7 separate regions of the Homo sapiens genome follow, and regions 1, 2, 4, 5, 6 and 7 are each reported to be linked to region 3. The links are microRNA targets in miRTarBase. Many come from high-throughput screens and were not tested one by one. Region 3 holds a microRNA gene; each other region holds the end of a gene's coding sequence. Distances are from middle to middle.
The links. Region 3 holds the annotated microRNA hsa-miR-320b (AAAAGCUGGGUUGAGAGGGCAA, at 3,065-3,086, opposite strand). A microRNA usually pairs through its seed, bases 2 to 8, with sites in the 3' UTR of a target mRNA and lowers its output. Matches are read on the target gene's strand: a 7mer-m8 pairs with bases 2 to 8, a 7mer-A1 pairs with bases 2 to 7 and ends in A, and an 8mer does both.

Region 1: the mRNA of RNF103 is a reported target of hsa-miR-320b. The part of its 3' UTR that is shown has no 7-base or 8-base seed match.
Region 2: miRTarBase lists HOXC11 as a target of hsa-miR-320b. The part of its 3' UTR that is shown has no 7-base or 8-base seed match.
Region 4: miRTarBase lists TASOR2 as a target of hsa-miR-320b. Seed matches in the 3' UTR shown: 7mer-m8 at 3,346-3,352.
Region 5: miRTarBase lists VPS13D as a target of hsa-miR-320b. Seed matches in the 3' UTR shown: 7mer-A1 at 2,220-2,226 and 7mer-m8 at 2,256-2,262.
Region 6: the mRNA of BCL7B is a reported target of hsa-miR-320b. Seed matches in the 3' UTR shown: 7mer-m8 at 3,257-3,263.
Region 7: miRTarBase lists BCL9L as a target of hsa-miR-320b. The part of its 3' UTR that is shown has no 7-base or 8-base seed match.

Annotation. Positions count from the first base shown.
Region 1 is chr2:86,600,439-86,604,438 of GRCh38, reverse strand. RNF103 (ring finger protein 103) reads left to right here. Exons shown (of 4, transcript NM_005667.4): 4 at 1-1,041. The coding sequence ends at 596. The region is part of intron 3 of RNF103-CHMP3 (RNF103-CHMP3 readthrough); the gene reads left to right. The region is part of intron 5 of CHMP3-AS1 (CHMP3 and RNF103 antisense RNA 1); the gene reads right to left. Among named protein-coding and RNA genes, the nearest start is that of RNF103, 21 kb to the left of the region's middle.
Region 2 is chr12:53,974,550-53,978,889 of GRCh38, reverse strand. HOXC11 (homeobox C11) reads right to left here. Exons shown (of 2, transcript NM_014212.4): 2 at 1,247-3,709. The coding sequence ends at 3,477. HOTAIR (HOX transcript antisense RNA) reads left to right here and starts at 3,936. Exons shown (of 7, transcript NR_186241.1): 1 at 3,936-3,992. RefSeq lists enhancers at 3,464-3,613, 3,944-4,340.
Region 3 is chr1:224,253,985-224,258,324 of GRCh38, forward strand. MIR320B2 (microRNA 320b-2) reads right to left here and starts at 3,126; the gene lies at 3,056-3,126. The region is part of intron 18 of NVL (nuclear VCP like); the gene reads right to left. RefSeq lists an enhancer at 726-1,651 and a silencer at 2,763-3,057.
Region 4 is chr10:5,762,587-5,766,926 of GRCh38, reverse strand. TASOR2 (transcription activation suppressor family member 2) reads right to left here. Exons shown (of 22, transcript NM_001321783.2): 21 at 4,281-4,340; 22 at 3,187-3,898. The coding sequence ends at 3,895. It overlaps GDI2 (GDP dissociation inhibitor 2), which reads left to right. Exons shown (of 11, transcript NM_001494.4): 9 at 289-433; 10 at 632-686; 11 at 775-1,704. The coding sequence ends at 921. Among named protein-coding and RNA genes, the nearest start is that of GDI2, 49 kb to the left of the region's middle.
Region 5 is chr1:12,508,372-12,512,711 of GRCh38, forward strand. It overlaps VPS13D (vacuolar protein sorting 13 homolog D), which reads left to right. Exons shown (of 70, transcript NM_015378.4): 70 at 522-3,676. The coding sequence ends at 653. Among named protein-coding and RNA genes, the nearest start is that of SNORA59A, 3.3 kb to the left of the region's middle. RefSeq lists an enhancer at 38-539.
Region 6 is chr7:73,533,379-73,537,718 of GRCh38, forward strand. BCL7B (BAF chromatin remodeling complex subunit BCL7B) reads right to left here. Exons shown (of 6, transcript NM_001707.4): 6 at 2,978-4,012. The coding sequence ends at 3,920. Among named protein-coding and RNA genes, the nearest start is that of BAZ1B, 13 kb to the left of the region's middle.
Region 7 is chr11:118,894,715-118,899,054 of GRCh38, reverse strand. It overlaps BCL9L (BCL9 like), which reads left to right. Exons shown (of 10, transcript NM_001378213.1): 10 at 1-2,919. The coding sequence ends at 640. CXCR5 (C-X-C motif chemokine receptor 5) reads right to left here. Exons shown (of 2, transcript NM_001716.5): 2 at 1,268-4,340. Among named protein-coding and RNA genes, the nearest start is that of CXCR5, 13 kb to the right of the region's middle. RefSeq lists enhancers at 406-913, 2,533-3,291.

The sequences.
Region 1 (4,000 bases), not on the chromosome of region 3:
TATTCTTGGAGCGCTTAGCTTTCCCTGACCTTTGGCTTCACCCTCTGATACCAACTGATTATATTAAAAACTTACCAATGTGGCGATTTAAATGTCTTGGAGTCCAGTCTGAAGAGGAAATGTCGGAGGGGTCTCAAGATACTGAAAATGACTCGGAAAGTGAGAACACAGACACTTTGAGTAGTGAGAAGGAAGTATTTGAAGATAAGCAAAGCGTACTTCACAATTCTCCAGGAACAGCAAGTCACTGTGATGCTGAGGCTTGTTCATGTGCCAATAAATATTGTCAGACCAGCCCATGTGAAAGGAAGGGGAGGTCATATGGATCATATAACACTAATGAAGATATGGAACCTGATTGGTTAACTTGGCCTGCTGATATGCTGCACTGTACTGAATGTGTTGTTTGCCTAGAGAATTTTGAAAATGGATGTTTGCTAATGGGGTTGCCTTGTGGTCATGTGTTTCATCAGAATTGCATTGTGATGTGGTTGGCTGGGGGCCGACATTGTTGCCCTGTTTGCCGGTGGCCTTCTTATAAAAAAAAGCAGCCATATGCACAACACCAGCCCTTGTCAAATGATGTCCCATCTTAACCATGTGCAATTTGTCCTTTATAAGCTTTGAGTATCTTACAGCTTGCCTTTTTAATGTTAGTCACAATGTTTTTGTGGTTTGAAGTTTAGTTTAATGTTAGTGCAGTGACGGGAAATACACATTATGCTAATGTTGATGACAGAATTTATTTGGTTGCCTTGTGTGTTAATTGAATGCATACCTAATTGTAAAATTTTTTTATTTACAACATTGGAAATTCAGAAGTTAATGTTTTTTTGTAAGCACAAAAGAAGTATTATAGAAATTTATCCTAGCAAGACTTTACAAGATAGGATCAAATTCTAATGGAATTGAGCCGGTTTCTTATCCTAAATGTTTCCTCCCTTTTTACAATCTCTGTCCAGCACCTCTTGGTTAAATAATGTATGCTGTGAGACATGAAATTAAAACAGACCTATGAAATAAATTATTTTAAAACCAGAAGATTACAGATTTTCCAATGTTAAATTTTTTTGATAAGGTGGCTGAATGATATAGGTGTTTTGCTGGTTTGTTAATTTCACAGATAGATCAAACATGATTCTTGACTCACGTTGGGGAGGAAGACAAAATGTTGCTGGCACTTGCTAGATGTGACAGTTCACCTTTTAGCTTGGTTAGCTGTGATGGGAAAGAGTTTCATGGTGGGCTTTTGAAAAAGTACTAAATAATTTATCAGTACTTAGCACATTCATCTAAATAAAATCAACTATAGCATATTAGCCACACATAAATTATGTTTTTTCTGACTTTTGAAATTTTTTAAAGCTACAGAAAGCTGTAAACATAGTACAGTGAACATCCATTTCTTTTTATCTAATTCACCAAGTGTTCACATTTTGTTATATGTTTTATCTCCTATCTCTTATGTGTATATTTCTTTTTTTTTTTTTTTTTTTTTGAGATGGAGTCTCACTGGGTCGCCCAGGCTGTAGTGCAGTGGTGCAATCTCGGCTCACTGCAAGCTCCGCCTCCTGGGTTCACAGGAGTAGCAGGGTCTACAGGTGCCCACCACCACGCCCGGCTAATTTTTTGTATTTTCAGTAGAGACGGGGTTTCACCGTGTTAGCCAGGACGGTCCCGATCTCCCGACCTCGTGATCCGCCCGCCTCGGCCTCCTAAAGTGCTGGGATTACAAGCATGAGCCACCGCACCCGGCCGCTGATCCTTTTGAAAATAAATTTCAGTCATCATGATGACTGACTGCTAAATATATCACCACATATCTAAGAACAAGGACATTCTTTTATGTAACCACTATACCATTATGACACCCAAGAAATTTAACATTGACTCAATAATAGCTAATGTATATAAAATCGATACTCCCCAATTGCTCCTGAAATATCCTTTATATCTAAATGTTTTTGTTTTATTTTTATTGTGAACTCAGACATAGTCGATACATTAAGTTTAGTCTCCTCCTTTTCATCCTTTCCTCTAGAGTAATTCCCCCTGCCGCCACCCCTTTTTTTTCTTTTTCTTTTCTTTTCTTTTTTTTTAAAGACAGTTTCCCTCTTGTTGCCCCGGCTGGAGTGCAATGGCGCGATCTCAGCTCACCGCAGCCTCCACCTCCCGGGTCCAAGCGATTCTCCTGCCTCAGCTTCCCGAGTAGCTGGGATAACAGGCACCCGCCACCACGCCCAGCTAATGTTTGTACTTTTAGTAGAGACGGGGTTTCTCCATGTTGGCCAGGCTGGTCTCAAACTCCCGACCTCAGGTAATCTGCCCGCCCCGGCTCCCAAAGTGCTGGGATTACAGGCGTGAGCCACGGCGCTAGGCCCCTGCCCCCTTTTTAAAAAAGTAGACTCTTCTTTGATTTCTCTCTGGTGTTCTGTTTTATTTTTCTTTTATCATTTTTTTCTTTTTTTGAGATGGAGCCTCTCTCTGTCGCCCAGGCTGGAGTGCAGTGGCATGGTCTCAGCTCACTGCAACCTCCGCCTCCCTGGTTCAGGCGATTCCCCTGCCTCAGCCTCCCGAGTAGCTGGGATTACGGACATGCACCACCATGCCTGGCTAATTTTTGTATTTTTAGTAGAGATGCGGTTTCACTATGTAGGCCAGGCTTGTCTCGAACTCCCAGCCTCAGGTGATCTGCCCACCTCGGCCTCCCAAAGTGATGGGATTACAGGCATGTGTCACCACACCTGGCCAATTTGTTTTACTTATTTTTATTTTATTTTTTTATTTTATTTTATTTATTTTATTTTATTTTATTATTTTATTTTATTTTAATTTTATTGAGACAAGGTCTTGCTCTGTTGCCCATGCTAGAGTGCAGTGGCATCATCATAGCTCACTGCAGCCTCAAACTCCTGGGCTCAAGCGATCCTCCTGCCTCAGCCTCCCAAGTAGCTGGAACTACAGGCTCAAGCCACAGTGCTAAGTTTTGTTTTGTTTTGTTTTTTGTTTGTTTTGTTGTTGTTGTTTTTGAGAGTTGGAGTCTTGCTTTGTTGCCTAGGCTGGTCTTGAACTCCTAGGCTCAAGCAATCCTCCTGAGTAGCTGGGGTTACAGGCATAAGCCATAATGCCTTGCTAGTTGCCTTTTTTTGGTACTAACATTTTTGGAGACTACAGGATGGTTGACTTATAAAATGCTCCACATTCTAGATTTGTCTGTTTCTTTCATGATTAGATTTAAAGGATATTGTCTGGAAGGTATGTACTTTCCATTTGTATGGCATCAGAAGGCACATGTCAGTTTGTCCTATTATTGGTGACATTTGGTTAAAGTGATATTTGCCTTTTCTTTCCATTCTAAGATACTTTTTCACTTTAAGAAGGAACCTGTTGAGACTATGCAAATATCCTATTCCTCAACAATCTAACCCAATGGCTTTAACATCTGTTGATTCTTTGCATCAATCAGTTATTAAAGAAGAGTTGCAACATGGGAATTTCATTTATTTATTTCAAGACAGGGTCTTGGTCACACAGGCTGCAGTTGCAGTGGCATGATCACAGCTCACTGCAGCCTCAACTTCCTGGGTAGCTGGGACCACAGGTGTGTGGCACCACATCCAGCTAATTTTTGTATTTTTTTGTTAGAGACAGGGTTTCGCCATGTTGCCAGGCTGGTCTCAAACTCCTGGGCTCAAGTGATCCACCCGCCTTAGCTTCTTAAATTGCTGGGATTACAGGCGTGAGCCACCGTGCCTGGCTAAGATGGGGGTTTTCTAATACCATCATTCATTCTACATTTATTGACTTTTTTGTGAACAAGAACTTTCCATTTTTCACACTTTTGATTCACAGATTTTTTAAAATACCCTATGTGTTAGAATTTATGATTCTTCTTGATTTTCAAATCATCCCAGATTAGGCTAGAGGGAGCCTCTCTAAGCCGGCTCTTATGTCCTATTGACAGTCCCTTTAATCTCGAAGCACTTCCTTGCCTTTTGAC
Region 2 (4,340 bases), not on the chromosome of region 3:
CTGGTTTGCACCTTTTGCTCCCCCAGAACAGGGCTCCCCAATCTTTCCATCTGGGACAACTAGAGCCAGGGAGTTTTCTCTCAGAGGTGCTTGGCAGGGGTTTCGAGTCTTCTTACAAGGGGCCCTTGCATCGCCATTCCTCAGCCACCTAAGAGTCTAAGTGACAAAGAAACCCCAAACTCAAGGCTACTCCTAAACCCATTTCTCATTTCGAGTGCCCTTGATTCCTCCTGCACCCCAAAGCCCATGGTGGAAGGGGGAGGGGCCCAGAGTGCTCTCTCAGCCCACACCACTTAATACCCTTGTAAACTCCCACGTGCACTATAAACTTGGATTTTTACAACCAGCATTCCTCCTTAGCTCCGGGAAACTTTGAACTCGGCCTCAGGTTTATTTACTGGGGCGGGGGGGTGGGGTGGGCGCGGCGGGGAGGAAAGGGGCTGGGGTGCTGGGAGCTGAGAAAGGCTGGAGAAAAGAGGAAAAATGTGGGGCAACGGGCTGAGGAGGTGGGGGTCTGAGTGTGTTGGGAGAGCCAAGACCCTCCACTACAGGTTTGTTTACTATTTAGGGCGGAAGTGGTTTCTAATACAGGCCAGACTGGGTCGTTAAGGTCGAAATGAAACTGGGTTTAGAAACGTGAGGGGGTGCTTTATGGCAGCGTCTAGACGAGGATCTTTTGTTCCCGGGCAGTGCTGCGGCTAGAGGGGATTACCCCAAGAGGTTGAGCCCAGAGTGCCCCTGACCTGCAAGGGGGGTTGGACACCTTGGGAGACGGAAGGTGGGTTTGTTTGGGGGCCAAAAAACCCTTTTTCCTCCTTTTTAGAGGGTCACCAAGGACTGGCAGATTCCTGGCTTGGGTCACAGAAGCCTTTGTTTTTCTTTCATGATGACCTTCTCCTCTCATCCACCAGAACTCTCTTTTGGAGCTGAGGACATTTCTGGGCTCCACATTGCAGAGAAAGTGTTACCTGCGGGTTTTAAATATTTTTCTCCAAAATCAGGCATTTGGAGGCTAATATTTTGCTTTATAAATAGGTTCACCTTATAGAGTTTCCTCTATCCTAATTTCACAGGAAACATCACCAGCAGGCTAATATTTCCTAATGTGGCTAGTGGATAAACATCATACCTAGAGAAGTGTCACACACACATACACACACAAAAATGTACAGAGGCCCCTCAGTTGCATTCCTGCCCACACTCAACAAACACTGCCAATGGTTACACACCACAGAGACACAAGCTCTAGATGTGTATGTGGTCAGGTTTACTCCATGCAACAGACAAAAGCATATAAATAATATTCCTTCTTATGTGCACCCATAGGCACACCGAGTTAAATAAAACGTTTGTGTGTGGGCACATGAGGGAATTGTGGGCTGCATATACACCCTAGTTTGCAAATCTTGTCTCACGACCCGACCCACGTTTACAAATTAGAAATTTAGATACCTAAGCTGCAGGGATTCCTACCATCAAAAATGACAGAACCTAGATTTGATAGTCATGATGCTTTTTCCTTTCATCCAACAGAATTGTATTGACAAAAATATTTTCTTTGAATTATACAAAGACAGAAAGAGGAGGGAAAGATGAGATGAGTTGTCCTGAACCTCTGCCCCCAAATAACGAATTTGAAACAGAGACCAACGAAGTGCCCTCACTGAAAGCACTGCAAGGGCCATGATTATCTTTATACAGAAGAAACATGCAGCAAATATAGATGGGTATGGTGACTGTCCCCGCAGGTCATCTCCATCCCCAGTGCCAACCCCTACAAAACAAACCTCTGGGGCTTTCTACTGTGGGACACCCAATGTATAAACATCAGGGTGGCCCCAGTATAGGCGTCTTGTTGTGTCTGGAAGAGCCTGGCCATTTGTGCCAGAGGGAAAGCAGCCAGGCCCCACCTTCCCACCCCCAGGAGCTGTGGAGAGGAGAGGGAGGGGGCTGGTTTCTCCTTCTGTCCCCTCCTTCCTTAAAAACAGTGTATAAAAATTCCAATACAGATTTCTCCTAGAGAAAAAAAAAAAAAAGCCCTAACCTCCACACTACACATTTAACTGCGACAGACGGAGACATCTGGCAGAAGGGCGGTGGAGCCAAAAAAATTCCTATAAATTTAAATTCGATGATGGTTACAATTAACTCCACAACAAACGTGTACTTAAACAGAAAGCCGTTGCTGGGCGTTTGGACACAGCTCGAGCTGCACGTGAGAAAGGAGAGCTTCAGAGTAGCTATGGAATGTCCTCAGCTTGAGAATGTGAGGAGACTACGGCCATACTCTTGGCCCTGCCAGCGGAGAGGAGCTCCAGGCCGGCTAGCACCGGCCTATCTCACCTCTGCCTGCCTGTCCTCACCCGCTGGGCTCTGCCTGCCTGCCTCCTCCTCCTCCGCCGCTGCCATGGGAGCATGGAGGATTTTAAGAGGAGAGGGGTTAATAAAAGGGTCAAATAAAATCATAATATTGAACAGAATGAAATTTATCTTTATTTGCCACCAAAAAAATTTCACAGCAATCCCTCTGGGAAGGGAGCAGGGTGGGGAGTGCACATGTACACACGCACTCACGCAGAGGAGTAGAGATGCGTGATTTGAATCTCACTGGGGGCGTCCCCCCCTTTCCCTCCAGGTGGAAAGAAACGCTTGGGAAATTTATTTACAAAAATCCAGGCCCCAGCACGGGGGAGGTGCCCAATCCCATCTCCCTACTGCCTCCACCACCCCAATCTTCAATTTTCTTAAAAAAAAAAAAAAAAGAGGTAACGACTGCATAGACTATAGCTATAAATCCATGAAGTGGGGCACTGCTTGGAAAAAGATGTGGAAACCTCAATGCACCGATTAAGAAATTTCAAAGGAAGGTTCTACACATTCAGGGGGAGAACAACTAGGCTCGGGCGGGGCCTTGGCGAAGACGGAGGTAGGACACGGACTTTGCACACCTAACACCAGGTTGAAGGTACAGAAATTTCACAGCAAGGCAGGATCACATTTAGCTGCAAGGTGGGGCGGGGTAGAGGGGGGAGCTCGAGAAGTTTCCGCTGGCAGACATGCTGTCTTAGCGGATCTTTTCACATGGGCAAGGGAAGGCTTTTAGTTCGAGGATTGTTCGGCTCAGGCGCTCACTACTGTCGCCCCTCCCCCACCTAATCCGAGCAGCAAGACATTGTCGCCGAGGTGTGTTTTCTTTTAAATCAAAGTCTTGGCCTCGGCGCCAACGGTGTTCACTCGCCGTGCATCAGACACTTCCCTTCACCCCCTTTCCAGGCCCGGTCCCTGTCCCACAGCGAGAGTCAGATAGAGGGTCCAGGAGGTTCCGGAATGGAGTGCCGGCCACAGCGGTGGGGGCCAGCCCTGGCCACAGTCCAGTTTTCCACCGGCGGAAAGAAGACGAGTTAGAAAATAAAAAATAAAAATAAAATAAAATAATTTTCCCCTCCCCCCGCCCCCAAAAGGGCCCGGTCTGCAGGTTACAGCAGAGGATTTCCCGAGAAATACTGCAGCCGGTCTCTGCTCAGTTTCTTTTCTTTCATCCTTCTGTTCTGAAACCAAATTTTCACTTGTCGGTCCGTCAGGTTCAGCATCCGGGACAGCTGCAGCCGCTTCTCTTTGTTGATATACACGTTGAAGAAAAACTCTCGCTCCAGTTCCCGGATCTGGAATTTCGAATAAGGGCAGCGCTTCTTGCGGGTGCGGGGGGCGTCTGGAGGGAGGGGAGGGGGCAAGTGCGAGGAGAGGGGGGAGAGAGACACGTGAGACCCGGGCGACCCCAGCCCGCTGAGCGCTCAGCGGCCCTTCTCCTAGCCCACCGCGGGCAGCCCTCCCGCCAGGCGGCTGGCTCTCCTGCAGCCGCAGCACCCGGGCAAGCCTCGACCCCCTGCCAGGTCTAGCGGGTCCCCACCCCCCCGCCACTGCGCCACCCCGTCCCCAGTTCTCAGGCGAGAGCCGCGGCTGACAGGGTCTGGGACAGAAGGAAAGCCCTCCAGGTACACGTGCGTCCCCTCGGGCCCCCTGTCTGCTCCCCCTCCGCCCTCGGGCCCTTCCTGGGCCGCCCTCCTAGTGGTTCGGAAAGCCCAACCCCTCCCCCAGAAATCTGGGGGGAAAGCTGAGAACAGGCGCGAAGCAGTGAAATCTGGCGAGAGCAGTCGGGAGGCGGGGAGGAAGCCGGCCAGCAGGCACCGAGACACCAGAGAGCCGCTTCCGGGGCCCTGGCGCCCCGGGAAGCCCGCGGGGCAGCGCCTTCCACACCGCAGTTCTAGGCAAGCACTAAGGCCGCGGACCCGGGAGAAACGCCCAGACCCCCGCCTGGAACGCAGTGGAGTCCTGCGCCGCCT
Region 3 (4,340 bases):
CTATGGTGAAGTAACTGTACAAATCTTTTGGCCATTTTTATGTTTAAAGTTGATTAAATAATTTTGTAAACTGACAAAGAAAAATGGTATATATTTAGGTTGTACAACATGTTTTTTTTTGTTTTGAGATGGAGTCTCACTCTGTCGCCCAGGCTGGAGTGCAGTGGCATGATCTCAGCTCACTGCAACCTCTGCCTCCCGGGTTCAAGTTCATTCTCCTGCCTCAGCCTCCTGAGCAGCTGGGATTACAGGTGACCACCACCATGCCCGGCTAACTTTTGTATTTTTAGTAGAGACGGGGTTTCACCATATTGGTCAGGCTGGTCTCGAACTCCTGACCTCGTGATCCACCTGCCTTGGCCTCCCAAAGTGCTAGGATTACAGGCATGAGCCACAGTGCCTGGCATTTTTTTTTTTTTTTTTTTGAGATGGAGTTTTGCTCTTGTTGCCCAGGCTGGAGTGCAATGGCGCAATCTCAGCTCACCGCAACCTCTACCTCCTGGATTCAAGTGATTCTCCTGCGTCAGCCTCCCAAGTAGCTGGGATTACAGGCATGCACCACCATGCCCGGCTAATTTGTTTTTTTTGTTTTTTTTTTTTTTGTATTTTTAGTAGAAACAGGGTTTCTCCATGTTGGTCAGGCTGGTCTCGAACTCCCAACCTCAGGTGATCTGCTCATCTCGGCCTCCCAAAGTGGTGGGATTACAGGCGTGAGCCACTGTGCCTGGCCAACATGTGTTTTTAAAATGTGTATACATTGTGGAATGGCCAAGTTGAGACAACTGACACAGGCATTACCTCATATTCTTATTACTTTTTTTGTGGTAGATCACTTAAAATCTACTTTCTTGGCAATTTTCAAGTACCTTTTGGCTACTTTTAAAATGGTGTAGTTTTTTTTTTTTTTTTTTGAGACGGAGTCTCTGTCGCCAGGCTGGAGTACAGTGGCATGACCTTGGCTCACTGAAACCTCAACTCCCAGGTTCAAGCGATTCTCCTGCCTCAGCCTCCCAAGTAGCTGGGATTCCAGGCATGCACCACCACACTCAGCTACTTTTTGTATTTTTGGTAGAGACGGGATTTCACCATGTTGGCTAGGATGGTCTCGATCTCCTGACCTCATGATCCGTCTGCCTCGGTTCCCAAAGTGCTGGGATTACAGGCATGAGCCAATGTGCCTGGCCCAAAATGGTGTAGGTTTTTTTTTTTTTTTTTTTTTTCCTGAGACAGGGTCTCGCTCTGCCGTCCAGGCTGGAATGCAGTGGTGCGATCTTGGCTCACGGCAAGCTCCACCTCCCTGGTTCTCGCCATTCTCCTGCCTCAGCCTCCAGAGTAGCTGGGACTTACAGGTGCCCACCACCATGCTCAGCTAATTTCTTTTGTATTTTTAGTAGAGACGGAGTTTCACCATGTTAGCCAGGTTGGTCTCGATCTCCTGACCTTGTGATCCGCCCACCTGGGCCTCCCAAAGTGCTGGGATTACAGGCGTGAGCCACCGCGCCTGGCCTAAAATGGTGTAGTTTTTAATCCTTTATCAGATATATGCTTTGCAAATATTTTCTCCTAGTCTGTGGTTTATCTTTATATTCTCTTATTTGCATTTTTGTAAGAGACTGGGTCTCACTACACTGCCCAGGCTGGCCTCGAAGTGCTGAGCTCAAAGGATCCTCCCACCTCAGTCTCCTGAGTAGCTGGGTTTACAGGCGTGTACCACTGTACCTGGCTTATTGGCACTTTTGAAGAGCAGTTCAGTTTATCTATTTGCTCTTTTATGGTTTACGCTTTTAATATCATATAGGAAATCTTTGCTTAATTCAAGGTAGAAAAAAATTTCTCCAGTGTTTTCTTCCAAGAGTTTTATAATGTTGTTTTCAATGGTCTTTGATTCATTTTGAGTTATTTTTTGTATGTGGTAAAAGGTATGAATTAAGGTTCAATTTTTCTTTTTGCATATGGATATTCAGTTGCTCCAGTACCATTGTTGAAAAGACTATACATTCTCCACTGCATTGCCTTTGTGCTTTTTAAATACATCAACTATCTAGATATGCATAGGAATATTTCTGGATTTTTTTTCTGTTCCTTTTATTTATCTGTCTCAGCTCTATGCCAATTACCATGCCGTTGAAACATCTTTTAATTTAAACATATAAATACATGCCAGGCATGGTGGCTCATGCCTGTAATCCCAGCACTTTGGGAGGCTGAGGCGGGTGGATCACTTGAGGTCAGGAGTTCGAGACCAGCTTGGCCAACATGGTGAAACTCCATAACTACTGAAAATAAAAAAATTAGCTGAGCATGGTGTTGCATGCCTGCAATCCCAGCTACTCGGGAGGCTAAGGCAGGAGAATCGCTTGAACCTGGGAAGCGGAGGTTGCAGTGAGCCAAGATCGTGCTACTGCACTCCAGCCTGGGCAACAGGGTGAGGCTCCATCTAAAAAAAAAAAAAAAAAAAAAAAACCCACAGAAAACTCCCCACAAAACACATCTTAAAGCCAGTTCTACATGCCCCAAGGTAAAGGGGAATACTGATGATAATTATAAAGCATTCTTAGTTTGGGAGTCCTATAATCACTTAACATCTCTGACAAATATCACACTTAATATTATGCAGTTTATTATTTTAATAAGTTATTTACAGTAAAAGGCATTCTGGACACTTTATATAAATTTTAGTATTAGATGACTTAAACTACACTTCACTAAAGGCTCCTGCAAGATTCTATGTATTACATCATTAGAAATGAGATGCTAATCTCTTCCTAGCTCTTCCCTAAACAGGCCCCTACCATTGTCTTTCCCGTCTTAGTTAATGTGAACTCATTCTCCCGGTTTTTCAGGCCCAGACCTTGGAGCCATGCTTGATTCCACTTTCCCACATCCTTAACTACTCCATTAGCAAATCAGGTCAACCCTATGACACAATATATTCAGATTCCTTCTACATCCACAGCTATCACCCGGCTCAAACCACCACCACCTTGCACCTGCATTATTCTTACAGCTTCCCAACTGGTTCCCTATCTAATTATGTCAGAGACAGAATTCTTTTTTTTTCCTTTTGCCCTCTCAACCCAGCTTTTCCCAACTTTGGGAAATCTGGGAAGAGAAAGCCTAAGAGACAGAATTCTTAGGTAGAAGACAAAAAATAACAATTCTGATATTTACAATAAAAATGGCACTAACAATCCCAGCACTTTAAAGAGAAAGTGCATTCACTCACAAATGAGATGGTTGCCTGAAAAAGAACCCTCCTTTCATCTGTTGATAAGCAGCACCTACTGTTCTTTATAAAGCACCTACCTCCCCTCAAAAAAGCTATTACAGCTTGCCATGGGTAAAAAACATTAATTAAAAAAGAAAAAAAAAGTTAAAATTGAGAGGTAACAGTAGCAACTTTTAACTTTAGGAAAACATTATTTTGTTATAAATGGACCCTCAATTTTTAACAAAGGTAACAAGACAATTCAATGGGGGACTAATTAATCTTTGCAACAAAGGTGCTAGGACAAGTGGTTTTTTGTTTGTCTGTTTGTTTGTTTGTTTGTTTCTTTTTTTGGAGACAGGGTCTCACTCTGTAGCGCAGGCTGGAGTGCAGTGGTGTATCATAGCTCACTGCAGCCTTGATCTCCGGGACTCAAGCAATCCTCCCGCCATAGCCTCCCAAGTAGCTAAGACTACAGGCATGCACCACCATGCCCATTTAATTTTGTTTTGTTTTTGTGTATTTTTTGTAGAGATGAGGTCTCACTATGTTGCCCAGGCTGGTCTTGAACTCCTGAGCTCAAACAATCCTCCCATGTTGGCCTCCCAAAGTGCTGGGATTACAGGCATGAGTCACTGCACTGGGCCCGACAAGGGATATTGACACTCAAAAGAATCAATTTGCACACTTTCCTCACAACACGCAACAAATTAACTCAAAATGGATCAAAGACCTAAATGTAAGAGCTAAAATTTTATGAGAAGAAAATGCAGGAGTTAATTTTAGTGACCTTCGGTTAGGCAATGATTTTTACACCATTGATAACACCATCAAAATTGCAAGCGGTAAAAGACAAACACATAAATTGGAATTTATCAAAATTAAAAACTTGTGTTTCAAATGACATCAAAAAAGTGAATAGACAACCCACAGATTGGTGAAAACATATGTAGATCACATATCTGATTTTAGATTTGTATCTAGAACAAAGAACTCTTACTACTCAATGACAAGGCAAATAACCTAATTGAAAAATGACCAGACATATCTCCAAAGAAGACATACAAATGACCAACAAGCACAATAAAAGATGCTCAACACTATCAGTTATCAGGGAAATGCAAATCAAATC
Region 4 (4,340 bases), not on the chromosome of region 3:
CAGGTTTTTTAGTTAGGTATGACAGAGCTGTTAAGAGATCTCATTCCAAACTTCAGCAGTTCGCTACCACTTCAATTCTTAATCTCTAGTAGGTTAAAAGAAATTCCTATTGTTAAATATCTGTGTACTTTACATCCAACTCTGTCACCATTTAGAACTTAAGTGTAGAAGATCTTGCCTATTGAGAGTAATTTTAACTCACACCTCATGACATATGGGTGATACCTGAGTATGTTGGGTCCCAGATGGAGACACTTGAGGCAGTGAGCTGGTATCATTTGTTTCTAGATATCTACGTCTGCATGATCTCCTTTGCGCACAATGTAGCAGCACAAGGGAAGTACATTGCTATAGTTAGTACAACTGTGGAAACCAAGGAGCCTGAGAAGGAAATCAGACCAGCTTTGGAGCTCTTGGAACCAATTGAACAGAAGTGAGTTGTGTTCTTTTATATCTGCCGAGATGCAAACTGAGGCCTTTGATTGTGGCTCCATGGTGGGACGAATGTGAGGGCAAGGCAGGTAGCTGCTGGCTGCTCTGTGGGATTCATCTGTACCTCTCAGTTGACCTCAGGCAGAGCCATGGTCAGGTGTGGGACCAGCTCACCTGACTGAATTCTCTCTCCCTCCAGATTTGTTAGCATCAGTGACCTCCTGGTACCAAAAGACTTGGGAACAGAAAGCCAGGTGAGTATGGAAGTGTGAAAGGATATGGGCAGGTTTCACTGGAAGACATCCCTCCATGGTCTTAAGTCTTCGTAATTTTTGTTTTCAGATCTTTATTTCCCGCACATATGATGCCACCACTCATTTTGAGACAACGTGTGATGACATTAAAAACATCTATAAGAGGATGACAGGATCAGAGTTTGACTTTGAGGAAATGAAGCGCAAGAAGAATGACATCTATGGGGAAGACTAACAGCAGTACATGTTATTATGTAATTAGGACACATTTAAAATTTGGCAAATAATGCATATAATGAAATCAATATTGTAAGGCCTGCTTTTGTAATGAAAATGGAGAGAATGAAGAGCGCTGTGCCAGTAAATACTCCCCTTCACCTTTCTAATTATTAACTTGTTTTCATGGAGTGGCTATTCAGCATTGGCAGTTACCACATTCTGTTCAATTTAACCAAACTGGCTTTTTTTTTTTCTAGTGAAGTTAAACAAACATTGGGATACCGACACAGACAACTTGAGACAGTTTTTTTAATCTTTTAATCAGTGTAGCTATGTGCTGCTGCTGCTCAAGAGCTGGATCCATACAGGTTGTGTGTCATCTGTCCTCTTGAGGTTCAGGAGATTCTAAATTGAATATTCCACGGTTTGGGACAGCATCCGGAAGTTTTCCCTATGACTTTATATTTTGTATTATGTCAAATGTTATGGCAGGGCCCAAATAGCATAGCCACAAGTTTGGTTTATGTGGGCATAAAATTCTAACCAAACCCCAGACATAGGGAGTCATTTGGAGAAAGCCTGTATGTGGTGTTTTAACCTAATAAAGTTGATGAGAGAGAAGGGGAGAGGAAGCGAACATAAAGCGGGTCAAGTGTAGTGCATCTTTTGTATCTCAGGCGTGGCTTCTTCAGTGGACCAAGCTGCAATGCAGTATTGACTTGACAGAGCCTCTACTTCTGTCTCAAAATGGCTCCAAATGATTTCTGTACTGCAAAATAAAGCCAAATTCTGGAAACTACTGCCCGGTGTTGGTTTGTGTGTCCTGATTGCAAGGGTCACAGCTGCCGTGCTTCCTTTGGTAGCACTGGAGTCAATGCCAGTCAGAATGCTCAGCAGCGGAAAGCGTGGGTGTCTTCTGATCTGGAAGGATCACAGCAGGTCCTGTCGTCTGGCTTCCCTGTGAGTAGACCTCGAGTTTTATTCTTGACACAGTACCATTACTAGACCTATCATCTTTGTGCAGAAAAAATAGTGTTTAATGATTTTGCTTGTAGCAGCAGTTATAAGGGAGTAAGTGAACTGTCAGGTAGAGTAGGTGCTTTAGTAAATAATTTTTGTGTAGTTGAAATGATAAAGTGTTTACATATAAGGCCCTTTCCCCTGACAGTGATGAGCCTCACGGCAGATGCTGTTGTTTACCACAGATAAACACTGACTCTTCAGAGTATGAAGGAGACAGACTAAGGTAGATGATGTGTTAAAGGAACTAGGGTGGTGATTTAGATTGTTATTCATATTGCCAAAATGATGGAGCTTCTCGACTTCAGTTGATGTTTTGGGCTGGATCATTCTCTGTTGATAGGGTTGATTGTAGCAGCATCCCTGGCCTCCACACACTAGATGGCAACAGCACCATCTTGGAATGACAACCAAAAATGTCTCCAGATGTTGAGAACCACTGCTTTACCTGTATGATAAAATTATCTGAAGTCCCAGCAAGCCTTTTTCTCTTCCCATGCAAAGGCCCAAGCTGGGTTAGTAATAAGTGAAAAAAGAAAAACCACGCATCTTCATATTCTTCATTCAACGTATTTACTGAATACCTTGTGTGCCAGGCCAGTGGAGACAAAGATGATAATGGTAGTTACTGGGATAACTCAGTTTGGTGAACACATGATGTGGTTTGGTTATTAGTAGAGTTACAGAAAAGGTAGCATGGAAACTGAGATGGCCTCGTGGGTGTTGGAAGGCTTTTCAGCAAGGGGAGGTGAATGTTATTAGGTCCAACCTGAAAGGTGCATATTTCAGGCAGATAGATAGGTGTTTGGCATCTTATAACTGCTCACTTTCCTTTTCCTTAGTAATCTGAAAGTAATTCACTGTACTGAATAGTTAATGGTTCCCTTAATAGACTCTTGTCCTTGGAAAAATAAAATGAAATGACTGGGGTTCTATTAGTAACTGAAAAATTGTCAACAATTAAAACTCTAAAACCTACTCATGAGAAAATAAAGCTCTTTTGTTTAGGAATAATAAAAGCCGACTTAATGACTTCTGAAAGAAGTAAGTGTCCCTGTAAAGGCCAGGTGAAACTGCCATTCTTTAACCTGTTACTCGGTGTACTTGACTGCGGAAAGAACCCAGAAACAGAACAGGCCAGGCCCAAAGGATAGAAGTGTAGGTTTCCTCTGGAAGCTTACTGTTCTGCTAAATGACCTAAAAATTGCTAGAACACTCCAGATAAGTCAATTTCTGCTATAAAAATCATTGCAGAAAGAGATTATTTTTAGTTGTCTTTATTTAAAAAATGAAACACATTAGTTACAAAAACCGTTGCTCCAAATAGATACCGTGTATCTTACAAATGTTTTTTGCTTGGTTTTGAGTGTTTACTGTAGAAATTTTCAATATCATAAATAAATGATTATTTCTTTCTCAGAAAGCTGATTTTTGTAGTGTAGTATTTACAAATACCGTAAGTGAAAAATGATAGTTTATAAATTTGTACCATTTAGGAAAAAATGTTTTATGTAGTGTTGTTTGTGTAACAGCAAATAAAACCATTTAAGATTATAGTTTTTACAAGGGTGGTAAAACCTTTAAAACAGAGCATAATGTGCATCGTATGCCTTTCTGACATTAGCATGCAAAAACAAAGCTATTTGTTAAAATAGACTTATTTTTGCTCCAACTAAGTAAACATGTAAAATTATTTTTAATAAGCTCAATAGCTTAGAAGGCATCTTGTTTAAAATGAAAATAATTTAAAACAATATCTAGCACTGCAACCCAAAGCTAACAGACAACTGCAATGCCACTGTGACATATTTCAGCAAAATATAAAAAATGAAAACTTTCCAAGTTGTAGAACATTGGTTTTTCAAATGTAAGACTGTTCACATGTGTATTCACATGTTCACAAGTTTTCCAAAGGGAAAATACTAATTTTTTATTGGCATCATCCATATCCAGGCAGGCTGTAGTTGAGTCACCTGAAGAAACACAAAATTGATAAAGAACTTCTTAAAATAATACGAACAAGAAATATTTTATAAGCGGGATGCTCTAATGGGGAAAACGCCTATGCATTCTAAGGTTACATTATGTTCTGTACTGACGATCCAAGTTAACAGCAAGTGAAAATGCACATTAGATAAAATAGGTAATTTTAGTAGATGGTTACTTCATTTAGTGATAATTTAGGAATTCCTATTTATGCCAAATAGCAATTCCACCCCTAAACAAACACTTTAAATTTATAGCATGAAGTATGTAAACAACAGTTTCCCAACTGTTTCCCTTAGACACAAATGTCAATATTTGCCATCAACAACTCCAACTCACATGGGAAAGTTACATAAAAAGTGTTCTTACCAATAGCTACTCCTAAATGGAGCTGCTATTTTTTCTATGTTTTCTATAAAGTTATTTACA
Region 5 (4,340 bases), 210 Mb from region 3:
GTCAGGTGAGTATGGGTTGGCTGTACAGTCCTGGGGAATGTTTAAAAAGACCGGCTGGGCGCAGTGGCTCATGCCTGTAATCCCAGCACTTTGGGAGGCCGAGGCGGGCGGATCACGAGGTCAGGAGTTCGAGACCATCCTGGCTAACACGGTGAAACCCCATCTCTACTTAAAAAAAAAAAAAAAAAAAAAAATCGTTAGCTGTGCACATGCCTGTAGTCCCAGCTACTCGGGAGGCTGAGGCAGGAGAATCGCTTGAACCCGGGAGGCGGAGGTTGCAGTGAACCAAGATTGCGCCTAGGCGACAGAGACTCCGTCTCAAAAAAAAAAAAAAAATTGCAGGGACCCACCCCAGACTTGTGAGTGCGAGTGAAGCAGGAGCAGCCCTGGCCATCACTGTTTCTTTGACGTGTACATCCCATCCTGAGATGCAGCTGGGCTGGGAGCCGCCACCTGGGTGGATCTGATTCCTGGATTTCCCCATCCTGGGGACAGGTGACCCATCCTGTTCTCCTCCTTAGGTCCATGTGAAATCTGAGGTCCTTGCTGTCAAGTTGTCACAAGAAATAAACTACGCAAAGAGCCTCTACTATGAACAGCAGCTTATGTTAAGACTCAGCGAAAACCGAGAGCAGCTGGAGCTGGACTCCTGAAGCCCCGCTGCTGAGATGGGCGCTCCCGACACAGCGCAGACCCACCAGGAGGAAAGAGGCCCAGCTCTCAGCTGACGATGGAGGCAGAACCGGAGTCGGGTTTGGGGAAGTTGTCAAGGAATGAGGGAAAGTAAATCCTCATGAGGAAAAGTACAAATGGAAATCGTATTAATTTGTGAGGCAGGGAGTTATTTTAGATTATGGGAAATAATTTTTAAAGGTATTGGTTAAATAACGTTTAAAAACATGTACTGAGATGAATCTAATTTTTAGATTGCCCTGTATTTTGTTAACATGTATATATGTACAACAGTGTGTTTGTAAATATATAGGAACGTTTCTGAACAGGGTCTGTGCTATGTGTAAAGGTTTGTTAACTGTAAAGTAATATAAAGTTATATTGGATCTTCTATTGCACTAATTCTAGATGTCTAATTCAGGATACTGTCTATAGAAAGGCATTCTTAAAAGTTAAAGAATGTTACGTCTTAGTTTTGGAGACTAAAGTATTCCCAGTAAAGTGGGTTGAGGTGAGGGCTGTGGTCCTGAAAGGGACGCCTTTGACATCGTGGCTGTCCAGTTGGGCTGTGAGCTGTGGCACCCAGGACTGGCGCTGGCCCTTCAGAAGGATCTAGGAGAGGGGCTTGGGAGCCCACTTTTAATTTCTCACCCCCATTTTACAAAGAGTGCTTAGATTCTTACAAATTATGATGTAAGTTATCCATTTGGCTTTTTCCTAACTAGTCTTACCAAACTTAGGGGGAAACCTGTGCTCCATTACCACATGGGTGCAAGTCAGCATTGTAAGTTTTCTCAGGTTATTATTATTAGAGAGGTTGGAAACATTGGTAAACTCTGTTGATTGAGAAGGAAAAAAAAAGTCCCATTGAACTGTTGCAACAAATCAGAAATCCACATAAAAGTGCTCTCCTGCCTGGGCAGCAACAACCAAGAACAAAGCCCCGGGACTGTTTTCTTTTTAATAAAGCCACAGGCAGGCATCGTAGCTCCACAGCCCGAGGGGACACAGGATGGAAACCCCAGGATGAGAAGGGAGCAGGGAGAGTTCCAGAAAGGGGGATGAAATAGGAGTATTAAAAAGCTGCGTTGGTAAGTTTTTCATGGAACCAAGATTTGACAAAGGCATCTCTTATCCTTGGTTTTAAATTCCTGCTGGGAGCAAGGCCTGGTATGAGCGCCCTGGGTCTTGTTTTTGGTGTTTCGCTTTTCTGTAAGGATTAAGCAGATAGGGAGAAGGGAAAAGGGGCCTCACTTTAGAATGAATGAGTCACCTTGTGATTTTTAAATTTTTATTTTAATAAAGCTAATCAATTTCTACAACCTTGTCACATGTAGCTGAGTCTGGGATGACTCAGTGGATCAGTGGATGCGTGGAAGGTTTTGGTGTTTATAACTCATGACCCAAATCCTTCCAAGACACAAATGAAGCTAATCTTCTTCCCCTCCCTTTCCTCTCCCACTTCCCCTCTGTGTCTGTGTCTGTGTGTGTGTGTGTGTGTGTGTGTGTGTGCGCGCGCGCGCGTGCATGCAGAGAGGAAGGAAGGGAGCTTTAGCACAAGTAGCTACATAGTGTTCAAGGATCAGCTTTCTTGAACTCCGAGGCTTGGTTGCCTTTGCTGAACTCCAAGTTAGTGGATTGCAGAATGGAAACTTGGCTTTTGCGGCACTGGGTGAGTTTTAGTTTGTGTGTGTCTTGCTGGGGGGTGGTGATGATTGTCTCAGCACTCACGCACTGCACAAGATGGCAGCAGGATACAGCACTGCACAAGATGGCAGCTCCTCTGCAGCTTCCTCCTCAGCCTCCCTCCTTGCACCCCCACAGGTTTGGCTTGTGGTTTTTGTCATCAGTAACCTACTGCCTGAGATCATGATCTCTTAAAAGATGAGACTCTCGGAAGGGTTGATTGTATGCGTCAGTGAGCCTTCTATCACCTTCTGGAACAAAGTCACTTGAAATCTCTTGATGAGATTAAGGAGTTTAGTGTTACTAAGAAAATCTGCTTTGGGCCGCAGCAGTGCTGGGTGTTCTCAGACCTGACTGAGGAAGTTAGCTGCGGGCTGCCCTGTGGGCTGGTGCTTCAGGAGGAATCCAGAGAAGTGTTCAGATGCCCCCCTTGGGCTCCTTTCTAATTTTAATCAGCTCTTTAAATAGCTGCCCATCTCCTGTGATTGCACAACCAAGCACTTTGACATTTGCACCTTAGGAGAGGCAGATGTTAAAATGGAATCCAAAGACCACCTAGGGCGGGGCTGGGTGGGAGATGGGAGGGCCAACTGCGAGCTGCTCCACTTCTCAGCTCTCCCCTGCCCTGCAGCCCTGGGCCAGACAAGGCCAGAAGGTTTCAGGGGCATTTGACATCCCCTCCTGGTTCTCACCAGGAAAACATCCAAAGCTTTGGAGGAAACAGGCCCTGCCCCTGGCTCCTTAAATGCCCCGTCTCTTTGTAAACTGATATTCAGCCAGCAATGCCTAAGACTTTGTTAAGATCATTTCTACTGCTTTTCTTTCTGCTTCAAACACACAGTTCGTCTCTGAGGAAAGTAAAATAAATGGAATAAGAGTAAATTGGGTAAGGAGATATCCAAAGCTACCCAGTCCCTTGACCCAGCACAGTTGGCCGACCCGTGTCACTCCCTGGCTGTCGCTGCTTCTCTGTGCTCACTGAAGGGTGAGCCAGGCCAGTGCTTCCCCAGCCCCTGGGCCTGGTCACTACACAGTGGAAAACAGACAAGCGGCCCCTTCCCCAAATCCCAAGAGTGTCTTGCTGCTTGGTGGGTGCTCATCGCAATGTTCTGAAGGCTCCAGGGCCACTTTGTTTGTAAGTATGATCTGGGCCTCAAAATACCATAGTAGCTGCTTGATAAAATTCTAAAAATATCTGGTTCTCTATTATGTAAACACTATTACAGTCACCAGTGTGTGAAGACTCTTGAGTCTGGTTCTCATATCAGAGTCATCATTTTTCTTCCTGTGGAATAAAATGCCTTGTGGACTTCCCAAACTTGTTCTTTTGTTTTCTTCTGGTCTCTTGGTGATCCACAGCTTCTAGAGCTATCACCAGTGACAAATACCAAACATAGTGTGATGTTCACAATAAAATGTGGCCTCTGCCCCCAGGCCTGGGGAAGCACCCCCACACCTTAACCAGTCTCAGCCTCCCAAGAGTAAGTAGTAGTCTCCGCGCTACACTGGCTGCTGATCAGTCCATTCTGAGGTTCCTGGTCCAAGCCCCAGCAGGACAGACGTCACACTTAGGGTTTAGGCAGCTGAAGAAGAAACAGCAAAGGAGGCCGGGCATGGTGACTCATGCCTGTAATCCCAGCACTTTGGGAGGCTGAGGCAGGCGGATCACAAGGTCAGGAGATTGAGACCATCCTGGCTAACATGATGAAACCTCATCTCTAACCCCGACTATATCGCCCCTCTCTATTCCATCCACTCCACCTCAAAATTAATAACCTTGTGTGTCGCCCAAATTTTCACCACGTTATATAATTATGTGTATAACTAAAACTACAAAAAATTAGCTGGGCATGGTGGTGGGCGCCTGTAGTCCCAGCTACTTGGGAGGCTGAGGCAGGAGAATCACTTGAACCCGGGAGGCGGAGGTTGCAGTGAGCCGAGATCACACCGCTGCACTCCAGCCTGGCACAACAGCCTGGCAA
Region 6 (4,340 bases), not on the chromosome of region 3:
TGGCTCACGGCTGTAATCCCAGCACTTTGGGAAATGGAAACCGAGGTGGGTCCAGCCTGGGCAACATAGTGAGACCTTGTCTTTACAAAAAAAAAAAGGGTCAAGCGCAGTGGCTCACGACTGTAATCCCAGCACTTTGGGAGGCTGAGGTGGGTGGATAACGAGATTGGGAGTTCGAGAACAGCCTGGCTAAGGTGGTGAAACGTCGTCTGTACTAAAAATACAAAAATTAGCCAGGCACAGTGGCAGGCACCTGTTATCCCGGCTACTCAGGAGGCCGAGGCAGGAGAATTGCTTGAACCTGGGAGGCGGAGGTTGCAGTGAGCCAAGATCACGCCACTGCACTCTAGCCTGGGTGACAGAGAACACTCTGTCTCAGAAAAAAAATACGTATTTTGTGTACCACATACAATCACATTATCTGTAAAATTCATTTGACAATTTGATTTTATATGTCTCTTTTTTTGAGACTCCCTCTGTCGCCCAGGCTAGAGTGCAGTGTCATGATCACGGCTCACGACAGCCTTGACCTCCTGGGCTCAAGAGATCCGCCCACCTCAGCCGTCGAGCAGGGGATGCTACAGGCATGCACCAACATGCCCAGCTAATTTTTGTTTTTGTTTTAGAGATGAGGTTTCACCATGTTGCCCAGGCTGGTCTCGAACTTCTGGGCTCAAGCGATCTTCCCAAAGTGCTGGGATTACAGGCATGAGCCACTGTACCTGGCTGTTACATTTTTAAAAGATTATTACTTATTTTTTTAGAGACAGAGTTTCACCCTGTCGCCCGGGCTGGAGTGTAATGGCGCAATCGGGCTCCCTGCAACCTCCGCCTCCCAGGTTCAAGAGATTCTTGTACCTCAGCCTCCCAAGTAGCTGGGATTACAGACATGTGCCAGAACGCCCGGCTAATTTTTTGTATCTTTGGTAGAGATGGGGGTTTCACCACGCTGGTCAGGCTGATCTCGAACTCATGACCTCGTGATCCGCCCGCCTCAGCCTCCCAAAGTGCTGGGATTACAGGTGTGAGCCACCACGCCCGGCCTACATTTTTGTATTTGTTAATGAGACAGGGTCTTGCCATGTTGCCCAGGCTCGTCTTAACTCCCAGGCTCAGGCAATCTTCCTGCCTTAGCCTTCCAAAGTGCTGGGATTACAGGCCACTGTGCCCAGCCCTATATATATAAAAATATTTATATATATATATATATTTTGAGATGGAGTCTTGCTCTGTCGCCCAGGCTGGAGTGCAGTGGCGTGATCTCAGCTCACCGCAAGCTCCGCCTCCTGGGTTCACACCATTCTCTTGCCTCAGCCTCCCGAGTAGCTGGGATTACAGGCGTGAGCCACCGTGCCCAGCCCCAGCCCTATTTATATTTTGTAAGAAAAGATAAAACAGGGGCCGGGTGCGGTGGCTCATGCCTGTAATCACAGCACTTTGGGAGGCCGAGGCGGGCAGATCATGAGGTCAGGAGATCGAGACCATCCTGGCTAACACAGTGAAACCCCGTCTCTACTAAAAATACAAAAAATTAGCTGGGCGTGGTGGCAGGCGCCTGTAGTCCCAGCTACTCGGGAGGCTGAGGCAGGAGAATGGTGTGAACCCGGGTGGCGGAGCTTGCGGTGAGCCGAGATCCCGCCACTGCCAGCCTGGGTGACAGAGCGAGACTCCGTCTCAAAAAAAACAAAAACAAAACATAGAACAGTAGAACTTGTATTATAGTCTCATCCATGACACCTGGAGCCCCTGTGAGAAATGAGGGGAATCACTCCGGGAAATAAACAGATCTGTGGCTGCCAGGGCCCGAGGGGAGGGGAAGAAATGGTGAATGATGCTAACTGGACATGAGGTTTCCATTTGGGATAATAAAAAAGTTCGGAGCTGGACTGTGAGGACTGCCCAGCACTGTGAATGTACTCAGTACTCAGTACCACTGAAATGCACACTTCACAATGGTGACAAAAGTAACTCTTGGCCAGGTGCAGTGGCTCACACATGTAATCCCAGCACTTTGGGAGCCTAAGGGGTTCGAAACCAGCCTGGCCAACATGGTGAAACCCCACCTCTACTAAAATTACAAAAATTAGTCAGACGTGGTGGTGCACGTCTGTAATCCCAGCTACTTGGGAGGCAGAGGTTGCAGTGAGTTGAGAACACACCACTGTACTCCAGCCTGCTGGGTGACAGAGTGAGACTCTGTCTCAAAAAACAAACAAACAAAAACCTTTTATGTTACGTGTATTTTACCACAAGGGGGGAAAAAAAGAACTCATGAATCCCTCCGAACTACATGGACCTGTGGAAAACACATCCATGGGCTGCATTTGGTGTACACAGGGATGGAATTTGGTTTTGTTTTTTGAGATGGAGTCTCGCTCCGTCACCCAGGCTGGAGCGCAGTGGCGCAGTCTTGGCTCACTGCAACCTCCACCTCCCAGGTTCGAGCAATGCTCGTCTCAGCCTCCCAAGTAGCTGGGACTAAAGGCGCCTGCCACCATGCCTGGCTAATTTTTGTATTTTTAGTAGAGATGGGGTCTCATTTTGCTGGTCAGGCTGGTCTTGAACTCCTGAGCTCAGATGATCCACCCACCTCAGCCTCCCAAAGTGCTAAGATTACAGGCGGGAGCCACTGCGCCTGGCCTGGTTTTTATGTTTTAATTTAAAAATATTGTTTAGATAGAGATAGGGTCTTGCTGTGTTGCCCAGGCTGGTCTCAAACTCCTAGCCTCAAGTGATCCTCCTGCCTCGGCCTCCCAAAGTGCTGGGATAAGAAGTATGAGCCACCACGCCCAGCGAGAAGCATAATTTGAACTACGTGACAGCTTCAAAGGGAGGCTAGAAATCACTGTCATGAAGTCCACACTGTGGGAGTGAAAGGATGGGCAGGCCCAGCCCACAGTGACCCCACAAGCACTCAGCCACCACCCCCACCCCGGCCCGCAACCTTCAAGAAGGAAGCACTCAGATACCAACAGGACATATTTCAAATAGTTTAATTTTAAAAATATTCTATTCAGTGCTAAAATATGTCTTCACTCACTGTTGCCCATTTCCATTTTCTTAAACTTTTTTGAAACAAAAAATAAAATCACAAAGTTCAATTCAACATGCAGATTTCAAAGAAAAGGGAGCTTTCTAGAAACTGAGCTGAAGGGGTACTGTGGGGGATGGGTACTGTTGTCAGAACCTCAAATTCTTGCTGGGGCAGTTTGTGACAAGAGGCAGGGATGCTGGAATGACAGGTAGAGGTGAGAACAAAGCTGCGTGTGTGCAGATGTGTGTGCTGAGGGCAGGGGATGGGGACGGCGGCCACAAAGGGCTGTCAGCAGCTAGGGTGCCCGTGAGAGGTAGGACCACCTCAGGCATGGGCAGAGCTGGCAGGACAGCAAGAAATCTAGACGGACTCTCTGCCCTTGTGTGGAGAAAAGCCCTTCCCTTCCCTCCAATGTCTCTACCCAGTCCTCCAACAGCAGCCTACAGGGCCCCCAGTCCTAGGGGAAAGTCCGGGAGTCTACAGTCTCCGTTCAAGTTCAAGTAACCTGAGGCACGCTCTCTTCTAGAAGGTGCCTTCCACATCTCTCTCTTCTCGCAGAAGCTGCCAGCAGCTCCGTCCAGAGATTCTGGAGCAGAGACTGCTGCCTGGAGGTCACAGATGAATCTTGGGGTGGCCGATGCTCCAGCCAACTTGGGGTGCAAAAAAGACATGAGCGCTCCTCTTCTCGGGAGCAAGTAGACACAGGTGCCAGGGTCAGGAAGATGATGCTACAGCCCCAAGTCCTACGCCAGCCTTCCAGCCCGGAAGGCTCATGTGTGCAGGCTCTTGACCCCAGTGCTTGCCCTTACCCCAGCAACGCGGCGCGGCCAGAACCAGAATGCAATAAATAGAGGCAGGGCCAGGAGGCGGAGGGCCGGGATGGTGCTAGCTTTCTGACGCCGTCTGCGGCACTGTGGGTTGGTCCACACAGAAGCGCTTCAGGGGCGGGGCACCTGAGTCTTCCTCTTCCTCAACGACCTAGGAGCAGGCAGAGCATGGAATGCCAGGGCCACCCCTCCCAACCAGAACCTTCCCACCCACCCGAATTATAATGGGATGTCCACTCTGCTCCTTCCAGCAGATGATCAAACATCCTCCCCTGCCTACAACCCTGGGACTCATTTCCGGCGCTGCAGATCCAACCCCACATCCACAGTCTTTCCTGGTTTTTTGACTTAGAAACTGGGAAGCCTGGCCGGGCACAGTGGCTCACACCTATAATCCCAGCACATTGGGAGGCTGAGATGGGTGGATCACTTGGGCTCAGGAGTTCGAGACTAGCCTGGCCAACATAGTGAAACCCCAT
Region 7 (4,340 bases), not on the chromosome of region 3:
GCGCATGGGCGACGCATACCCACCGGGTGTGCTCCCTGGGGTGGCATCAGTGCTGAACGACCCCGAGCTGAGCGAGGTGATCCGGCCCACCCCAACGGGGATCCCCGAGTTCGACTTGTCGAGGATCATCCCCTCTGAGAAGCCAAGCAGCACCCTCCAGTACTTCCCCAAGAGCGAGAACCAGCCCCCCAAGGCTCAGCCCCCTAATCTGCATCTCATGAACCTGCAGAACATGATGGCGGAGCAGACTCCCTCTCGGCCTCCCAACCTCCCAGGCCAGCAGGGCGTCCAGCGGGGGCTCAACATGTCCATGTGCCACCCTGGACAGATGTCCTTGCTGGGCAGGACAGGCGTGCCCCCACAGCAGGGGATGGTGCCCCATGGCCTGCACCAGGGGGTCATGTCCCCTCCACAAGGCCTCATGACCCAGCAGAATTTCATGCTGATGAAGCAGCGGGGCGTGGGGGGCGAGGTCTACAGCCAGCCGCCCCACATGCTCTCCCCGCAGGGCTCCCTCATGGGCCCCCCGCCCCAGCAGAACCTCATGGTGTCCCACCCCCTTCGGCAGCGCAGTGTGTCCCTGGACAGCCAGATGGGCTACCTCCCGGCACCAGGCGGCATGGCCAACCTGCCCTTCTAGAAGTCGCTGCCAGGGCTGGAGCCGGGGCAATGTTGCAAATACGATAACCTTAACAAAGTTCTTCCCCTCAATGTTGGGATGGCCTGGGTCGCGGGGTGGGGTGGAGGGGGTGGGAGGGGGCTTGTGTAGGGAGTGGCATTTGTGGAAACCAGATGTGCTGGCAGCTTAGGGGGAAGTGGCAGTGTGGGGTGGGGGATTTTGCATTGGGGTTGGTTCCATTTCGGCCACCAGGACTGCCCCTCCCCCACTCCTCCCAATTCCTATGGAGCCTCTCTATTTTACCTCTTTCCGTGCATCCCTGCACCCGCCACACCCCCTTCAGCTATGCTTTTGGAGTCCTGGATGGGAATCTGGGGGGAGAGAGGAAGGACAGGTCAGGTCTCCCCCAGCCCCTTCTGCTCCTGTCTCCTCGTGTCCGCATTGCTGGAGCTCCACCTCCCTCTTGGTTTCTCCGCACCCGCCCATTTTCCTTCTGTCTTTACCTGCTTCGTATCCTTTCCCTGCTGATGTGGCTGACCCCTCTCCCACCCCTCCCTGCAGGCGGCTGGCCAGGTGGGCAGGTGCCAGCCGGAGCTGTAAATAGAGCGCTGCGCTTTTGTGCTGGTTTGTGCGTGTGCTGTATTTCTGTGTTTTGATAGAAGTCACACAAAAAAAAAAGGATAAAAGAAACCCTTCCCCCCTTCTTCAAGTTATTGCTCCCTCCATTCCCCTGGACCCAGGGACATGCAGCCCTACATGGCCACCCACTGTTTGCAGTGTCTCTGGGTCCCTAAGGGATACCATTCCTGTCTCGTCCCCAAATGGTAAGATGACGTAAATGACCCACTCCTAAACTGAGGTCAGACCACCTAGGCTTCCACCTGGTGAGCCCTAGCAGGGCTGAGACCCCCAGGGCGGCAGCCTGTCTGCTGCTGAGTGATTCAGGGAGAACATGTGTGCACGTGCATGTGTGTTTGCCCACACCGGTGACACGGGGCCCTGGCTTTCCACTTTGGATGCCCGGGCATCCGCTGCTGCTACATCTTAGCCAGAACTTGAAGTCTTTTGTCCCAGTTTGGGATGAAGGAAAGGAGGAAGAGGCGGTGGCTGTGTGGCCCCCTTGAGTGGAGCCATGGAAGGGGTGGCATGGTGCCACTGGGGCCTGTGGCTGTAGTAGCCCTGGGCCAGGTAACCTCCAGGGCCCTGACTTTTCCAGAGGCTGCTGCCACCTACTTCTTATCAAAGAAGGGGGAGAACAGTTCATCTGAGTCAGTGCACCTCCCCTCCAGTCTCCACTCCCTGAGGATGGAATCGGGGAAACAGCATCCTGCCGCCTCCTCTCTGCCTGCCCACTCACCGGCAAGGTTGTCCCTCTGCCCAGGGCTCAGGGCCATGTACCAGATCTGTCTGTGCCCACCCAGGCACAGCCACTGCCTCCCCCTTGGCTCCCTGCTCCTACCCAGGAGAGCTCCCTATCCGCCTTTGGTCAGAGCTGAAGCCATATACGACTGGGTGTTTGTCCCCCTACTTTGGCCCCAGGAGTAAAAAAACTTCTCCTTTTCTCACTTCCTTTCCTGCCTCGGGAGGTGGCAGGGCAGTTCCCTGGCTGAGGCCTTTTGCGCCCCACCTCCAGGACCAAGGGCCATTCTAGACAGGGTGTCTTCTACCAGGACCCGTCCCTAGCCTTCCTGGCCTGGAGGGCCTGGTCTTGCACTGGCAGCTGTAATACAAAGGGAACTCGCCCCACTTCTCCCAGCCTGGTGCTGTCCTCTCGGCCCACCATCGGCCAGGTCCAGCGCTTCCTCTGGGGCTGACAACAGGCCCCTGACTCACCCCGGTCACCTCCCAGGGTCCATGGCCAGGGCCTCTGTGTTTGGGGGGCCACTTGCCCTTCATCCTGCCAGGCGCTTTGCCCGCCCTGCCTCAGCCTGGGCCCTGTGCCCTTGAGCCCTCCACCCCTGGCCCAAGACCCCCCCAAACTGTCTGACTCTGTGTTTCCTGCCCTGAGGAGAGAGGGGTCAGATTGCAGCGGGCCGAGTGCCCTCTCCGTCCCCTCTCCTCCCACCCACGCCACAGGCCAGCCTACTCTTCCCTCCATCCATGGCCACACCCCCAGCCATTTTGTACCATTATATAAATATATATATAAATATAAATATATAAATACAATATGTGAAGACATCTTCTTGGTTTTTATTTTGAAACAATTTTTAGGCTTGTTCCGGGGGTCTCTGTGCTGCCTGTACTGTATTGACCTGTTTTATAGGTGCCTTTTTATTAAAAAGAAAATTCAAAATCCAGCCTCTTGCCTCTTTGCATCTGCTTCAGACTCCCCCATCGATTACCCAGCTTGCGAGGAGATACTCAGAGAAAAAAGGGACGTCTTAGGGCTTCCTCGTTGTCCTGCCGTGAAGACACTCTCACGTGAGCCACAGCTGTTATTTCCCCAGTGGGGCCTCCCAAGGAGCTTGGCTGCTTGGCTTGAGTGGGACAAGGGCAGGGGTCCCTGACTCCCCACCTGATCAAAGGCTGGGGAGGTGGTAGGGAGCACCCAGAACTGCCGGACGGGCCTCCCACACCCCAGGTGAGCAAACAAGCACGGAGCAGCTTCCTGCGGTTCCATCTGAGTGACATCCTCACGGGGGCAGGGCACGGCTTCCTGGGGCCTGGGGACTTCCCTGCCTCAGTGTGTTTCTTACACTTCCCTGCCTAAGGTGATGCCACGGAGGGGATGGTTGAGATGACTCCCACGGGCCCCTTCCAGTCCACCTTTCTCCGTTCCGACTCTGAGTTTCCTCGGGTCTATAGCTTATGGGAAGGGAGTGAGGAGGGGACAAGCCAGCCTCCTTCCCCATCAATGCCCACAACCTCCCATCCCCTGGACCCAGCCACCCTAGGAGTTCTCCACCCCACCCCATCTCGCCTGGCGGAGGGGACCGCCGGGTTTGATTGATCCATCTCCCTCCTTGGGGTTCGGGAAGAAAGCTCTTTTCTTCCCTCTGTCGGGTTTCTTTCTTGCTTCTCGGCCTTCACGCTTCCTCAGGTCACTGGCTGGCCTCCAAGGGCACCTAGAGTCAGCCCTGCCTGCAGACCACCCAGGATCCGGTGACATGGGGTGGACCCAGCGCTGTTTCGGTCAGAGCCAGGGGCAGCTACCTGAACTCAACCAGTCTGAGCTTCCTGCTTGGTCAAGATGACTGCAGGCTTGGGGGCCTGGCAGAATGTCTGTGTTTTTAGGGACTGAGTTGTCCGAAGGCCACACTCTGCTGCCAGCTGGCCTTTCCTCAGCCTTAACCTCCACTCATCCCCTGGTGCTCAGCTTCTGGCTTTGTTTGACAGGTGGGCAGGAGGAGAGAGGGGAAGCTGTGGAGGTCAGCAGCCCCTAAGCTGATGGAGTGTGTTCTGGGAGGGGCAGGCGCTCTCCGTTGGCAAGGGCAGAAGTAGAAGTTGTTTCTTGAGCATTGGATGATTAGGATGGGAGGTGCGTGAGGTTCTCTCAGCCCAGGGGGGTGCAGATGGGTAAGGACAGCCTTCACTGTGCCTTTGAGCTGCTTTCCGCTCCCTGGGCTCCAGCCTAGCCCCAGGGCCGGCAGAAGAGCTGGCAGGGATGTTCTAGAAATGGGGGTTGGTTCCTCTAGCTACCCCAAATGAGGATACTCCTAGGACACTCTTAGCCACGGTGAGCCCTTAGGATCCCAGCTCCTGTTGGAAGGAGCATCCA